2 linked regions of the Homo sapiens genome follow. The protein of the gene in region 1 purifies or fractionates together with the protein of each later gene. This does not show direct contact. Each region holds a gene or a part of one and is shown on either strand. Other genes may lie near its edges.

The links. Proteins that work in one complex are often made in the same cells at the same time.
Region 2: the proteins of SEMA6B (region 1) and P4HA2 purify together in Homo sapiens (co-immunoprecipitation; one large-scale study listed by IntAct). This does not show direct contact.

The regions. Positions count from the first base shown.
Region 1 is NC_000019.10:4,553,185-4,556,684, forward strand, and holds part of SEMA6B (semaphorin-6B precursor), read right to left. Parts: intron 2,906-3,500; coding exon 2,804-2,905; intron 2,381-2,803; coding exon 2,290-2,380; intron 1,912-2,289; coding exon 1,792-1,911; intron 1,293-1,791; coding exon 1,204-1,292; intron 1-1,203. UniProt on the Homo sapiens protein: Functions as a cell surface repellent for mossy fibers of developing neurons in the hippocampus where it plays a role in axon guidance.
Region 2 is NC_000005.10:132,189,854-132,193,353, reverse strand, and holds the end of P4HA2 (prolyl 4-hydroxylase subunit alpha-2 isoform 2 precursor), read left to right. Parts: intron 1-273; coding exon 274-344; 3' UTR 345-3,207; downstream 3,208-3,500. UniProt on the Homo sapiens protein: Catalyzes the post-translational formation of 4-hydroxyproline in -Xaa-Pro-Gly- sequences in collagens and other proteins.

The DNA of each region.
Region 1 (3,500 bases):
AAGCAATTGGTAGATAAGTAGATGGATGTGTGGGTGGATGGATGAACAGATGGATAGAGAGAAAGCTAGGTGAGTGGATGGATGGATGCATGGATAGGTGAATAAGTGGATGAATGAATGGATGGATAAGTGGGTGGATGGATGGATGGATGGATGGATGGGTGAGTTGGGTGGGTAGATGGTTGGATGGGTGAGTGGATGGATGGATGGATGGATGGATGGATGGATAGGTGAGTTGGATGGGTGGATGGTTGGATGGGTGAGTGGATGGATGGATGGATGGATGGATGGATGGATGGATGGATGGATGGGTGTGTGGGTGGATGGGCAGATAAATGGATGGATAGATGGGTGGGTGCATAGATGATGAGTGGGTGAATGAGATGGATGGATAGATGAGATGGAAGGGTGGATGGATTGGCAGATGGATGGATAGATGAAGGATGGATGGATGGGTGGGTGGATAGGTAGATGGATGAATGGATGGGTGGATGGATTGGCAGCTGGATGGATGGATGGATGTGTGGATGGATGGATGGATGGATGGGTGGGTGGGTGGGTGGGTGTGTTGGTGGATGGGTAGATAAATGGATGGATGGGTGGATGGGATGGATGGATGGATGAATGGATGGGTGAATGGATTGGCAGATGGATGGACAGATGATGGATAGATGGATGGATAGGTGGATGGACTGATAGATGGATAGGATGGAAGGGTGGCTAGATGAATCGATGGGTGGATGGATGCATGGACAGATGGATGAGTGCACGGATGGATGGTAGTGGGTGGATGAGTGAGTGGGTGGGCAGATGAGTAGATGGATTAATGGGCTCATGAAAGTGTGGGTGGGCTGAAGAACAGACAGATGGGTAAGTGGGAGGGTGAGCAGGTAGACGGATGGACAGGGGATGAAGGATGGATAAGTGATTGTGGCTGGGTGGGTGGGTGGACAGGTGAACAGCAACAGCACCAGGTGTATCTGACTTCCAACTCAAGTCCCTCGTCAGGGCTGAGTGCTCCACGGCTGCTCCGTAGATGTCTTCAGCCTCAGGGCCTGATCATGGCTGGAAAGGAGGCCCTGGGGACCAGAAATGGAGGGCAGGACCCTCTCACCCCATGCAGGGATTCATGGATCCACCTCTGCCCCCTCACTTCGCATGATCAGAGCCTCTCAACTTCATGCCCCACTGCACCGGCCTCACCTTCTCCAGGTAGTTAAACTCCATCGCAATCTCCCGGAAGAAGAAGTAGACATGGCTGCCCCACTCCACCGCATGGACAAAGTAAGGCTCTGCAGGACAGGAGGGGTCAGAACTCAGCCCCTGACATGACAAAGGGGGTTTCTGGGGCTAAGAACTCACTGGCTTTTATGGTGAAGGGGGGACATAGGCTGGTTACCCAGACAATATGAAACAGACTCAAAGTTTGGTATTTTGCAGGGGAAGGGAGGTCAGAAGCCTAAAATCGCTGTGTCTCTTGCTGCAAATGGCAACATCAACTATTTTTTGTTATCTTCCTCCCTCATGTGTTGAAGAGCTGAGTCCTGCTATATCTTTTCTGTGGTTCCATTTTGGGCTTCTAAGCCACCCACTTCCAGCGGGTTCTACTTTAGATCCAACTAAACTTGTTCCTCTAGCTTTCTAGTCTTCAAAAAGGCCAACAGATTCCAAAGATGTGGTGGAAATCTCTCCACCAAGCTCCTCTGGGACTCTTATTCTGGTGGGGAGATTTGATGAATGTCAGGTTCTGGGCCCTGCCAGGTCTGGGCCCACTGCCCTTCCTGGTCTCACCTTTGAACCACTTGGAGTCATGTTTCACGGTGCGCAGGGTGGGCCTGTCCCCGAGGCTGCGGTAGATGACAGCATCAATGGCTAGGAAGTCGGTAACAGTAGCTGTGAAGAGCATCCCGTCTGGATGGGGTGGGTGGGGAAGGCAGGCAAGAGATGAGACCGCAGAGGCCAGGGGCTGGGTGGGTCGAAACTCGATTTTCTGAGACTGAGTCCTGAGCCTAGGGGAGCCCCTGTCTCCAGGCTGAGCCCTGATCCCATCCAAGCCCCACCTCCATCCAAGCCCTGACCTTAACTGAGCCCCTGACCCCGGCTAAGCCCCAAATCCCGCTGAGCCTCAATCCCAGCTGAGCCCCAAACCTGGGCTGAGAGTCTGCCCATGTCACAGCTGGGACAAGTGGTCGTCCAGCTGCCTTCTAAACAACCCAGACGCTGGAGTAGAAAATGCCAGGTCTTGCCTGTGGCTGGGGCTGATCAGATGGAGGTTGGGGGGGTACTTACCAGAGAAGAGGGCAACATTGGCGTGCTTGGGGTCGTACGGGCAGCGGGCCATACCGCTGATGTTGTCTCCGACGGGCTGCAGGGTGTCTATCTGCAGGGACCATGGGGCCTGAGTGACAGATCTCCTGACCCCACCTAGCAGCCCCTGGCTCCCTCAGCCCCCCACTCCAGGGGGAATCCTGATCCACCACGGATTACTGTGTGACCTTGGCCACTCACTTAACCTCTCAGGGCCTCAGTTTACTGATCTGTAAATGGGTTTAAGAGTCAATGCCTAGTTAGACCTGTAACTGGCTCATTACCTAAGTAGCTACGGCTTCCCCGGCCCCCTGTACAGGCCTCGTTTGGACAGCGCTGACTCCTCTTGAGCTCAGGGGGAGGAGGCAGGGAGAGTATATCCAGGAAGGCTTCCTGGAGGAGGTGACACGGCCTGGGGAAAAGCCATGGCCAGCGGAGGTCGGGCGAGCAGAGGCCTGGAGGTTGGACCTGGGGCGCAGGGAGTCTGAAGACTCACGCTGTAGTTGGCGCACACCGGGTTGAAGGCGTTGGAACCGCACACAAAGAGCGTGGACTCGTCCCGAAGGAGCAGCACCTTTACGAAGTTTCGACACTCGCCCTGAGGTGGGGACAGGAGGAAGCGGGGAGCGCGATGTGGGCGTGGTCATGGTGATGGGCGTGGCCAGAACCTGAGTTGTGTGGGTGGAGGGCCGGTCTGTTGTGGGCATGGCCAAGGCAGGGGCTGAACCTAGGACTGGCTGGGGACACGGTGCGACCCAGACAGGGAAACACTTTGTATCAGCAACGCAGGCAAGGCCAGGATGGTGGGCATTGTCAGACTGTGGGCATAACCATGGCAATAGCAGAGTCCTAACCTGGGATGGAGGAGAAGGATCCGCCCTGGGTGTGGTCACGGCCGATTGGGGTGGGGCATGGTCGTGACCAGAACTAACTGGGGCGTGGTGGGCACGGTTATAGCTGATTGGGGCCAAGTTGGGAGCGTGGCCAGAGCTGGTGGGGTGGGCGTGGCCTGGGCTTATTGGGGCGGGCCGGGGGCGTGGGGGGCGGCAGGACTGATAGGGGAGGGGTCGGGATGGGGACCTGATCGATTGGGTGGGGAGTGAGCTATTGGGTGGCGTGTGAACATGGCCTGGGCTTGTTGGAACGAGGCTGGGGGTGGTGGTAGGACTGACAGGGGCAGAAGTGTGGGCATA
Region 2 (3,500 bases), on another chromosome or scaffold:
TGGGCATGAAAGGGCATGATTAGATGCCCTTGGGTGCTATTCCCATGGCAACCTGCACACATGTATCTTGTCCCACTGGCAGAATTTCATACAATTATCTGTTTACATGTGTCTTCCTTACCAATTCTTCAGCAAATTGAGGCCTGAGATCATGTCTTGTCTTATTTGTGTCTGATTCCAGGGCACAGTGCAGGGGGTCATCATGAAGGAGTCATTCATTCAGGCTACTAAACTGACCAATAGGATTGTAACATGCTTGCTTTCTTTTCACAGTCTCCAATAAGTGGTTCCATGAACGAGGACAGGAGTTCTTGAGACCTTGTGGATCAACAGAAGTTGACTGACATCCTTTTCTGTCCTTCCCCTTCCTGGTCCTTCAGCCCATGTCAACGTGACAGACACCTTTGTATGTTCCTTTGTATGTTCCTATCAGGCTGATTTTTGGAGAAATGAATGTTTGTCTGGAGCAGAGGGAGACCATACTAGGGCGACTCCTGTGTGACTGAAGTCCCAGCCCTTCCATTCAGCCTGTGCCATCCCTGGCCCCAAGGCTAGGATCAAAGTGGCTGCAGCAGAGTTAGCTGTCTAGCGCCTAGCAAGGTGCCTTTGTACCTCAGGTGTTTTAGGTGTGAGATGTTTCAGTGAACCAAAGTTCTGATACCTTGTTTACATGTTTGTTTTTATGGCATTTCTATCTATTGTGGCTTTACCAAAAAATAAAATGTCCCTACCAGAAGCCTTAAAGAGCCTTACTTGGAGTATTTTTAAGACTGGAAGCTTTTACCAGGTTCATCATTTCCTATGCATCACCTTCATGCAGGCAGAGTCTGGATAATGAATGCTTTAGCAGCAAAAAAGCATCTTGGGTCTTGGATTTCAGACCTGGTTTCAACACTTGTGTTCCCTCTAAGTGTCAGTGTCCTTTTCTGGAAAGTAGGGTAAATAGTTTCTCTTTGTCTCCCAGAGAACATAGCACATGTGTTCATGATTGTAATGCTGTTATAATGTGTACTTCATTTTTAAATTTTGAGATAAGAATTGTTCATGATACACAGATGTATACTTAAAAAAATATGAAGGTGAGCAGGAGCACCTGTGTCAACACCAAGTTAGAAAAGAGAACGTTTTCAAGTCAGTACCTCAGGAGCCCCTTGGGAACCCCTCCTAGATCACATCTCCTTCACTGCCCCCAGCACTTTGGAGATAAATCATTGTCTCATGATGTGTGGTACTCATTCCTTTGCTTGTCTTTATAGTTTTACCATCTATGATTAGATCCCTAAATAAGTAGTTATTCTGTTTTCCCTGATTTTGAACTTTTACTAATAGAATGAGAGTAAATATTTTTGGGTATGTGGCTTCTTTTGTTCAACATTGTTTTAAGATTCATCCGTGTTGCTTGTGTAGCTGTAATTTGTTTTAATCTTTATAGTACATTCAGTTTTGTTAATGCTTATTGTAGGACTGTACCATAATACAGGCAGCATGCTGCTGATAAACACTGGAATTGATTTCAGTCTTTGTATATTGTGAATAATGCTGTGATAAACATTTTTATACATGATTCCTGGTGCACATATAAACACATATTTCTGTAGGATATATATCTAGGAGTGGAAATGTGGAGTCTTAATGGTGTTCCAACTTTACTAAATAATGTATTCCAAGGTGGTTATACACATTCTCACCAGGAGTAAATGAGAGTTATTACCCCAATCTTTTCCAGTATTTAGTATTTTCATACTTTTGAATTTTAGCTAGCTTGGTACATGTTACGGACTAAATGTTTGTGTCCCCCCACCAGATTCATATGTTGAAATCTTTTTTTTTTTTTTTTTTTTTGAGACGGAGTCTCGCTCTGTCGCCCAGGCTGGAGTGCAGTGGCGGGATCTCGGCTCACTGCAAGCTCCGCCTCCCGGGTTCACGCCATTCTCCTGCCTCAGCCTCCCAAGTAGCTGGGACTACAGGCGCCCGCCACTACGCCCGGCTAATTTTTTGTATTTTTAGTAGAGACGGGGTTTCACCGTTTTAGCCGGGATGGTCTCGATCTCCTGACCTCGTGATCCGCCCGCCTCGGCCTCCCAAAGTGCTGGGATTACAGGCGTGAGCCACCGCGCCCGGCCCATATGTTGAAATCTTAACCCCCAATGTGATGATATTAGGATGCGGAGCCCTTGGGAGGTCGTAAGCATGGAGCCCACGTGAGTGGGATTAGTGCCCTTATGAAGAGATCCCAGCCCTCTTTCTGCCATGCGAACACACAGCAAGAAGATGCCTGTCTATGAACCAGGGGGCCCTTACCAGAAACAAACCTACTAGCATCTTGATCTCGGACTTTCCAGTTCCCATAACCATGAGAAATAAATGTTTTTAATTCAATGTATGGTATTTTATTATAGCAGCTCTACCTAAGACAGTACATGTATAGTGTCTATTTGAACATTACTGATAATGTTGAACAACTTTTCATGTTTATTAGTTATTAGGTTTCTTCAAGTGTTCTTATTCATACAAATTTTAAAATATGTACACAAGTTCTTTGTTATATATTTTGCAAATATCTTCTGTGGCTTGTCTTTTCACTATTTTAGTTCTGTCTTTTGATAAACAGGAGCTTTTAATTTTTATGTCAAATCTATCAAGCTTTTTCTTTTTGATTTATGTTTTTTATGTCTTATTTGAGAAATCCTTCTATACCCCAAGATCATGAGGATGTTTCCTGTGTTCTCTTCTGAAAGCTATATAGTCTTTGTCATTTAGGTTTATCTTTATACGTGGTATGAAGTGTAAAGTTCTACTTTTAATTTTTTGCATATTTTATTAGGATAGGATGGGCTTTTTCTGTAGTAATAATCCTTAAATCTCAGGGGCTTAATATATAAAATTGTCTCATGCAAAAAACCACTGGGTCTAGGGCAATTGCTATCTACTGCCGTCTAATCTCCCTCTAGTGGCTTCCATTGGTAGACCCTAACAGGAAGCCAGCTGATAAGGGAATCTGGGAAATGTAGTTTACAGAGTGGCAGCTACAGTAGAACAGTAGAGACTACAAGGATGAGCTTGCAGCTGAGAATAGAAACGTGACTGGCACACTAGGTGGTTTGTTTGTAGGTTTTTTCTTTTCCTGTTTGAGACTTTTTTGGATTCTTGAATTTGTACAATGGTATCCTTAATCAATTGTGGAAAATTAAATGATTTTTTCTTTCAGCATTGTCTGTTTCTTCTGTAACTGATTAAATGTAAGTTGGATCATATCATGATATTATCTCTTAATCTGTCTTTCATATTTTTATATATATGCTATATTTGGGGAGAACTTTATAGCTGTTTTGTACAAAGTTCACTAATTCTGTCTTCTATCAAGTGCATACAGGAGTCTGTTTAAGGACTTTAAAGATGTAATTCTTTGTTTTCTGGCTTATACCATTTCTGTTGAAAAGTCGCTATCTGGTCCTTTGTTGTTCCTTTGAAGGTGATTTTGCCTTCACCTGGCTGCTTTA